2 separate regions of the Homo sapiens genome follow, and region 2 is linked to region 1. The links come from fine-mapping of genetic effects on gene expression. A gene starts in region 1. The other region holds a variant in brackets. All regions are shown on one strand. Distances are between the middles of the regions. Region 1 holds the start of KLHL18 (kelch like family member 18). Region 2 overlaps KIF9 (kinesin family member 9).

Evidence for each region. PIP is the estimated chance that this variant, and not a neighbour inherited with it, causes the effect. A credible set is the group of variants that fine-mapping cannot tell apart.
Region 2: its variant is the best candidate, but not a certain one, in a credible set for the expression of KLHL18 in skeletal muscle (GTEx, PIP 0.50).

The regions. Positions count from the first base shown.
Region 1 is chr3:47,280,676-47,285,058 of GRCh38, reverse strand. It overlaps KLHL18 (kelch like family member 18), which reads right to left and starts at 2,115. Exons shown (of 10, transcript NM_025010.5): 1 at 1,965-2,115. The coding sequence starts at 2,093. KIF9 (kinesin family member 9) reads left to right here and starts at 2,260. Exons shown (of 21, transcript NM_182902.4): 1 at 2,260-2,564. RefSeq lists enhancers at 2,132-2,521, 1,737-2,936.
Region 2 is chr3:47,258,632-47,263,014 of GRCh38, reverse strand. The region is part of intron 9 of KIF9 (kinesin family member 9); the gene reads left to right. Among named protein-coding and RNA genes, the nearest start is that of SNORD13J, 10 kb to the right of the region's middle. RefSeq lists an enhancer at 2,237-3,143. The variant C/T (reference allele first, on the strand shown) is at 2,305.

The DNA.
Region 1 (4,383 bases):
GGCGGATCACGAGGTCAGGAGCAGTCTGGCTAACGTAGTGAAACCCTGTCTCTACTAAAAACACACACAAAAATTAGCCGGGCGTGGTGGCGGGCGCCTGTAGTCCCAGCTACTTGGGAGGCTAAGGCAGGAGACTGGCTTGAAGCCAGGAGGTGGAGGTTGCAGTGAGCCAAGATCATGCCACTGCACTCCAGCCTGTGCCACACAGCGAGACTCTGTCTCAAAAAAATAAAAATAAAAGCAAAAAAACCGAGGCTTACAGAGATTAAGTAACTTGCTCAAGGTTACAACTAGGATTTTAATCCAAATCCTTCTGCTTTCAAAGCCATACTCAACCATCCTACTCTACCATCTCCAGAGGTCTGACTCAACTATGTTGCAGAAGAAAAGTTTCCTTAACCATGTAGAAAATAAGAAGAGCAGGCTGGGCGCGGTGACTCACGCGTGTAATTCTAGCACTTTGGGAGGCCGAGACAGGCAGACTGCTGAAGCTCAGGAGTTCGAGACCAGCCTGAGCAACATGGTGAAACCCTGTCTCTACTAAAAATAGAAAAAATTAGCCAGGGGTAGTGGTGCGCGCCTGTAGTCCCAGCTGCTGGGGAGGCTGAGGCAGGAGAATCGCTTGAACCCAGGAGAGAGAGTTTCAGTGAGCCAAGATAGCGCCACTGCACTCCAGCCTGGGCAACAGAACGAGACTCCGTCTCAAAAAAAAAAAAAAAAAGAAAAAAGAAAAGAAGAGCAAAAGAATCTCTGCATAGTTTTATTTTTTCTTTTATTTATTTATTTGTGTGTGTGTGTGTGTGTGAGAGAGACAGAGAGAAATAGGAGAAATAGGATCTTGCTGTGTTGCCCAGGCTGGAGTGCAGTGGTGTGATTACAACTCACTGCAGGCTTGACCTCCTAGGCTCAAGCGATCCTCCCACCTCACCCTCCTGAGTAGCTGGGACTACGGGCACAGGCTACCATGCCCAGACAATTTTTTATTATTTGTAGAGACAGGGTCTCCCTACATAGCCCAGGCTGGTCTCCAATTCCCCCACTCAAGTGATCCTCTCGCCTCTCAAAGTGCTGGGATTACAGGTGTGAGCCACCATGCCTGCCCTGTTTGTTTTTTAAACAGGGATCACGCACAGATGCTGAGAGCTTTCCAGCTAAAGCCCAACAGGGAGCCCCACTGATCATCTCCCCAACCGGACGTCTCCACATGGTTCGGTGGCTTGGCCAGGCAGCAGCACAGCATGCCTCTTCCTCATGAAAAGACCCAGGCACAGGAGGGAGGCTGGCTCTAGCGACCAGAATGCTGGTGGGGAACAGGTGGTTAAGATATCTTTCCCTCTTAATATCAGTCAGCATCCCTCTCCCCACGCGGCCAGCAGGCCCAGCCCCGGGGACCTTTGTGGTGGTGAGTGGTGCCTTCCAGTATGGGGCAGGGTGGCTTCCCACCTCAAAAATTTTCCAGAGAAGATTTTAAAAGCTCTTAAGAGACAAAGTAGTAATTCAACAATTAAGGGCAATGATTCCTAAGGAGAAGCCTTCTCTTCTAGAACAGCACAGCCAAGTTCGACAGGCACAAAGAAATATCTGTAGTGACAAGAGAAGGTTCTTCAGTGGTGCCCATCAGCATGTGGAGCCGGCCACCGCCCCTGCCTCCATAGAAGGTAAGTCCATTTTCTCTTGTCTGCATGACAGAAAAAGGAGGCTGTCACCCGTGTCTCCCACTCCAAGGGCCTAAGCGGCGCACCTCTCAACCTTTCCTTTCAAGGGCTGAAAGGTTGTCCTCTTCCTCTCCCCACTCGGCCCCGATCCCCTTTTGCTCGGCACCTCTCTCCCCACTACTCGGCCCCCCTCACACCTCTTCTCCCCACCCCTCTCCCTGCTAGACCTCTCTTTCTCTGTCCCCCGCCCCTTTTTACTCCCCGCTCGACCCCTTTTCCCTCAGCCCGCTGCCGCCCAGTCCGCGGTACCTTGAGGGTCACGTCGCACAGCTTGCCCTGCCGCCGGATCTCCTCCATGACGCCGTAGCCGCGACTAGGCAACTCAGACACGGAGAAGTGCACCAGATCCTCCAGCTCCTCCGCGCCGTCCTCCACCATCTTCCCCGGCCGCTGCAACTGCGCAGGCCTCGCCGGCCGGCTAGACACTAACCAGGGCGGGGCGATAGCGCACGCCGACAGCCGCTCGGAGCGCGGAGCAGCAATCGGACGGGCCTCCGCGGCCGCCGTAGTTGAATCTCCTCGGCGCCGGAAGCCCCGCCACTCCGCTTCCTGGTTCATGTGCGGCCTTCGTTCCCTCGCTATCTCGACCTTGACTTCGCATGTGCATCCGCCGAAGTCTTTCTAGATCAATCGGCCCCATCTCTCGTCTTCCCGATTCGGCCATGACCTCACCCGTATCCTCGACGTAGGACCTCGGACTTCATTTCCGCCACCCCGACACTTCCGGAATCCCCGGAAGCGACCCGTTGCCATGGCGACTATGTACACAGCCAGGCAGCCCCGCGTGGGGAGTGCAGGTGGTTTCGGTTGCGGCAGTCGCGTCCCGGGAGCGTCGCTGCCTGGTGAACGGTGAGCAGGGGCTGCTCGCCGGTGGGAGTGGGGAGACGGGAAAAGGGTGTGCGCCCGGACTGCTGAAAGTGGCTGGGGTCCAAAAACCGCTTTATCTGGGGGTTCCCAGCTGGGTCGCTCATCTCTGAAACCCAGGCGAAGGAGGGCTCGACGTCGCGGGAGTCCTTTCAACCTGACCGCGGCTTACGGTCTTCGGAGCTAATGTTCATTGGTCCCACAAAGGGGTCCCACGTCGCGTCCAGGACATAGAGGCCGTGAGGCAGGGAGCCAGAGGTCGTCTGGACTCTTCCGTACTAGTCAGTTTTCGAACTAGAGGGGGCTTTGGGATCACCAGTCGGAGCCCTTCGTGTTACAGGTGAGGAAACCTCTCCAGAGAGGGACCGGAATGGGTCCAAAGCCCACTGCCGCCCAGGCTCCACGCGGGGGTCCGGCACATTGGGTGAGAAAAAGGAGAAAGTCTAGTTTTGCCTGCATCCTAGTCTTGTTCAGCCAAGGCCAGGTGCAGTTGGACCCAGTGTTTTGGATTCGGGTGTTGGTGCTGCCGCTACGGGTAGCTATGAGGGTTCCCCATGACAGCCCCTCATCTGGACGGGAGCACTGGAAGATAGGGACCCACCTGGTGCCTTCCACCCCACCAAACGCTCCCTTTCCTCTTGTCTAGTCTTCATGGCTGCTTGTTGCCAATTCTGTTCATTCCCACTAAAGACAAATGAGGAAACCTCGAGCGCCTTAACACAGAAGTCTCCTGGTGGCCATTCAGAGACTTGCTTTGTTATACCAGAAATATCAAAGGGTGGTTCCCCAAGGAGAGACATTCCCCACAAGGTCCTGAGGGAGAAAGGGAGGGGGCCGGGCGCCGTGGCTCACGCCTGTAATCCTAGCACTTTGGGAGGCTGAGGTGAGCGGATTGCTTGAGCTCAGGAGTTCAAGACCAGCCTGGGCAACATGGCGAAACCCTGTCTCTACGAAAAATACAAAAATTACCCGGGCGTGGTGGTGCACGCCTGTAGTCCTAGCTACTTGCGGGGCTGAGGTGGGAGGATCGCTTGAACCCAGGATGTGGAGGCTACGGTGAACCGAGATTGTTTCACTGCACTCCAGCCTAGGTGACAGAGTGAGACCCTGTCACAAAAACAAATAAACAAAAAACAAAAACAAAAACAAAAAAAGCGTGTGGTGAGGTGCTGGATGTGGATTTTTGCACCTGGAAACCAAGTGTCCTCCTGGAAGGGCTGTGGGCTTTGGTTGGAGTTGTCATGGAAGGGGAGTGACATCATATGCCCCTTGGGACTCTCTCAGTAGTGACTGAAGATAGACCCACATATGAAGATTCAGCTGCCCTCTGACTTCCAGCCATTACCATCACCAACCACCGCCATTTCCTGAATACCTACTCTGTGCTGGGCTCTGCCCTGGACATTGTGAGGGGATTCAAAAGAGATAAAAAGCACAATCCTTGCCTTCAAGCAGCTTGTAATTTAATTTTGGGAACTGAAACCCACTCAAATGAAGCGACGTAAGAATGGTAACAAGCAGTATTTCAGTAAGTGCAAGATGGCATGGGGTCCCTAAATGTTTGGGTGTTAAAGGGCTGCTGAGTAGCAGGCTCACAAGACGGGTGTGCAAAGGAAGACTTTATTGCAGGTGGATATGGCTCCTGGCCTGCTTGGAGCCATGGTGTCAGCATGGGAGGGCCTTGGGAAGCATACATGGGGTGACTGCGTGTGCATGTGCATGTTGGCAAATAGCAGGGCAGAGAAGGGCCAGGCTCTGGAGGGAGAGTGATGCTTTTGCTTATTTGTTTTGTTTTGTTGAGACA
Region 2 (4,383 bases), 22 kb after region 1:
AGACAGGAGAATCGCTTGAACCTGGGAGGCAGAGGTTGTAGTGAGCTGAGATTGCACCACTGCACTCCAGCCTGGGTGACAGAGTGAGATGTCTCAAAAAAACAAAACAAAAAAACCCCACAAAAGACAGATTAGGAAAGCTATCATTAGACATTTTACTTTTCAAGTGTGGATGTTTAAGGCAAGCTTCAGTCACCTGGAGAATCTACTTAGGAGAAACAGATTATTTCCAAAGATGCTTCAGGGCAAGACATGCCTGCAGGGTCTCGCAGCTGTGTGCATTAGGGACTGTCCCAGCTTCCAAGGAGAGTGCTCCTGTCGTACATCCAGCACCCTGGGACTTGGGAGGCAGGGGAGGAGAGCTCCAGCTGACGTGCAGGCAGCATCCCCAGAGGAAGGCTTCTGGAACTTCTTGGTCTCATGGCATAAAATGCATGGTTGAGGCCAGGTGTAATGGCTCATGCCTGTAATCCGAGCACTTTGGGAGGCTGAGGTGGGCAGATCACTCCTTGAGGTAAGGAGTTTGAGACCAGCCTGGCCAACATGGTGAAACGCTGTCTCTAGTAAAAACATAAAAATTAGCAGAGTGTGGTGGCGGGCGCCTGTAATCCCAGCTACTTGGGAGGCTGAGACAGGAGAACCCTGGAGGCAGAGGTTGTAGTGAGCGGAGATTGGGCCACTGAACTCCAACCTGGGTGACAGAGCAAGACTCCATCTCAAAAGAAAAGAAAAAAAAAAAACAAAAAAACCCCGCATGGTTGAACCCAAGAAGAGCCATAAGAAATGGGCCTCCTGGCTGCCTTGTTAACAAAGATGCCCTCCAAGACAGTAGAAGCTCCCTGTCTCCCTTTATCCCCACCTCCTGTGATGGTTACAGCTCAGGAAACAACTCCTGGTACCCGCAGTCTCCGGGGGCTTGTGCCCATATACCACTTGGGTTCTCTGCCCAGGACGGAACCCAGAGCTCAGAGGAGCTGTTGGAGGGGTCTCAGGGGTTTGGGACAAAGGTATATTGGGGGTATGGAAGCTAATGATTGTCTCTTCCAAATGTGTTGAAACTTTAAAACTATTCTCATCATGGATTGTATTGCTTTATGCAGTGACACTGTACATGTGTGCTGAGTAACCACAGGGATGGGACATGGCCATACTTGCGGCTGTACTTGGAGTAGGAGAGTCTGACTTGGCCCTGCATAGAAGCAACACCACCTGTAATGACAGAGACGTCTTCTTGAGGGCTCGCTGTGAGCCAGCTCTGTACAGAGCGCATATACACCTTATCAAGGCAGCTCTCCCTTCACCTTACAGAGAAGATGTGAGATCTGTCAGTGGTCCTGCAGGGGGTCAGTGGCTGAGCTCTGAGCCACCAGAGTAGACTGCCCAAGGAAGAGCCCTTTCAGTCTTTCCTCTGGCCCACTTAGGGGCCAGCCACTCCTAGACTGCTTCCTCATTTCAGGATCATTCATTGAGAGATGAGACAGCCCAGCATGGCCTGAGGCAAGAATCTCTGGGCCTGCCTCCTGAGGCCCCTGGCTGTTCGTCACTGCCAAGGAGGAGCTCTCCACCCCTCAGCTAACATCCAAGCAATGAGGCATGGCATCTGGGCCTGCTCCCATAGCTGCCTCATAGGCCTCCAGCCATAATTATCCTTGGCTGGCTCCCCCTCCAGAGAGACTCTGCTGCGACCCCCCAGGCATCACTCTTAGTGTCCCGGGGACCCCAGAGTCCATTTTGGAGCATGCTTCTATGCAGAGATTTATCTTTCCTAGTGGTCTCATTTTACCTATTTTGCAAATAATCTCTATTCACAAGCAATGGGCCAAAGACACAGAGGCCAGTCAGCACACACACACACATTTTAGACCTCTGCTGAGTTGAATTTTTGGCCTTGTTACTGAGTAGCAAAGGCTAACGAACATTCCAATGCTTCCCTCCTTTCAGGTTCAACATTTACCAAACACCTACCACTTGCTGGCCTTACCTGAGAAACTGATTCCCCAGGCCCATGATTCCTCAAGGCCTTTCTCAGTTCCACTGCCAGTACCACTGAGCCTCCTCCCAGAGCACCCTGTCATTGTCTCAGTCCACCTGAGATGTTGACCTGGCTCTCGCCTCCCTCACACTTGGGGCGTACTGTCCCTCCATCAGGATGCACTTATCCCTTCCCCATCACCTGGCAAACTACTCCTCTGGCCCCTCCCAGGCCCCACCCAGGCACTAGGATGGGTTTCCTATTGGTCCTGCTCCCAGCTGTGAAGAGCACAGACTTGGGAGCTGGAGTGCCTGAGTTGAATTCCTGTGTGG[C/T]CACAGACCAGCTCTGTGGCCATGGGTGGGTGCCTTGACCTCCCTGTTTTTCAGTGTCCTCGTCTATAAAACTGGGTTGATGATACGTCTACCTTACAGGAAGTTGCGAGGATTAAATGAGCAACCACACTTCTACACTTAGAACAGAGCCTGGCCACAGCAAGCGCTGTGGAAGGGTTGGCCCTATCATAACTTGGCATGAGCTTACCTGTAGGGGTGGGTTGCCCCTACACACCTGTGGGTGTTTCTCGTAAGGTGGGACGAGAGATTTGGAAAAGAAAAAGACACAGATACAAAGTATAGAGAAAGAAATAAGGGGACCTGGGGAACCAGCGTTCAGCATATGGAGGATCCCGCCAGCCTCTGAGTTCCCTTAGTATTTATTGATCATCTGTGGGTGTTTCTCGAAGAGGGGGATGTGTCAGGGTCACAAGACAATTGTGGGGAGAGGGTCAGCAGACAAACACGTGAACAAAGGTCTTTGCATCATAGACAATGTAAAGGATTAAGTGCTGTGCTTTTAGATATGCATACACATAAACATCTCAATGCTTTACAAAGCAGTATTGCTGCCCGCAGGTCCCACCTCCAGCCCTAAGGCGGTTTTTCCCTATCTCAGTAGATGAAGCATACAATCGGGTTTTATACCGAGACATTCCATTGCCCAGGGACAGGCAGGAGACAGATGCCTTCCTCTTGTCTCAACTGCAAGAGGCATTCCTTCCTCTTTTACTAATCCTCCTCAGCACAGACCCTTTACGGGTGTCGGGCTGGGGGACGGTCAGGTCTTTCCCTTCCCACGAGGCCATATTTCAGACTATCACATGGGGAGAAACCTTGGACAATACCTGGCTTTCCTAGGCAGAGGTCCCTGCGGCCTTCCGCAGTTTTTGTGTCCCTGGGTACTTGAGATTAGGGAGTGGTGATGACTCTTAAGGAGCATGCTGCCTTCAAGCATCTGTTTAAAAAAGCACATCTTGCACCGCCCTTAATCCATTTAACTCTGAGTTGACACAGCACACGTTTCAGAGAGCACGGGGTTGGGGGTAAGGTTATAGATTAACAGAATCTCAAGGCAGAAGAATTTTTCTTAGTACATAACAAAATGGAGTCTCCTATGTCTACTTCTTTCTACACAGACACAGTAACAATCTGATCTCTCTTGCTTTTCCCCACACTTACCTACCCATTATCTGCCCCTTCTCTCACAGAATGAAGGGCTGAGCAAGCTGAGGCCACTCTGGGAGGTCCAGGCCCCAGATGTTGGATGCAGGGTTAGACATGATAGCCATAAGCCTTGCTGAAGGGAGGCTGAGAGAGCCCAGTACGCCTCCTGTCCTGACATGGCCTTGTGGCTTGGCAGCAGAGAGGTCCCTGAGGGAAGTGTATACAGGGGACAAAACTGGTAGGAGCCCATCTCTGTGCTGGCAGTGAAGCCTTTCAGCCCAAACCTGTGGAGACTCCCTGTGGATGGTGGGGAGGACACTTGACTAAGGCTGGTGGGCAGAGTCCAGGCTTCATTAACAGATCGGTCACGCCCCAGAGCAGCCTTTCTTAGCATGTGTGGCTAGAGGCCCCTGCCTCCAAATGCAGCAGAACTACCCATTCCCACCCAGACTGCTGAGTCTATTCATCAGGGGGCCTGAGCATCTGCCCTCCCAGGAATGGCTCAGGGGTGTCTTCACAGGGTAAAGTTTGAGCAGACGCTGCTCAGGGGCTAGACCTGCACTGGCCACTATGGCAGCCACTGGCCACATGTAGCTATGGAGCACTCAGATGTGGCTGGTCCTGACTGACATATAATGCAAGTGTAAAATGCACACCAGATTTCAAAGACCCAGCACCAAAAAAGAAGGTGTATTAGTCCATTCTCACACCTGAGACTGGGTACTTTATAAAGAAAAGAGGTTTAATTGGCTCATGGTTCCACAGGCTGTACAGGAAGCATGGCAGCATCTGCTTTGGGGGCGGCCTCAGGGAGCTTTTACTCATGGTGGAAGGCAAAGCAGGAGAAGACGTCTTACATGGCAGGAGCAGGAGGAAGAAAGTGAGGGGCAGGGAGGTGCCATATGTTTAAAT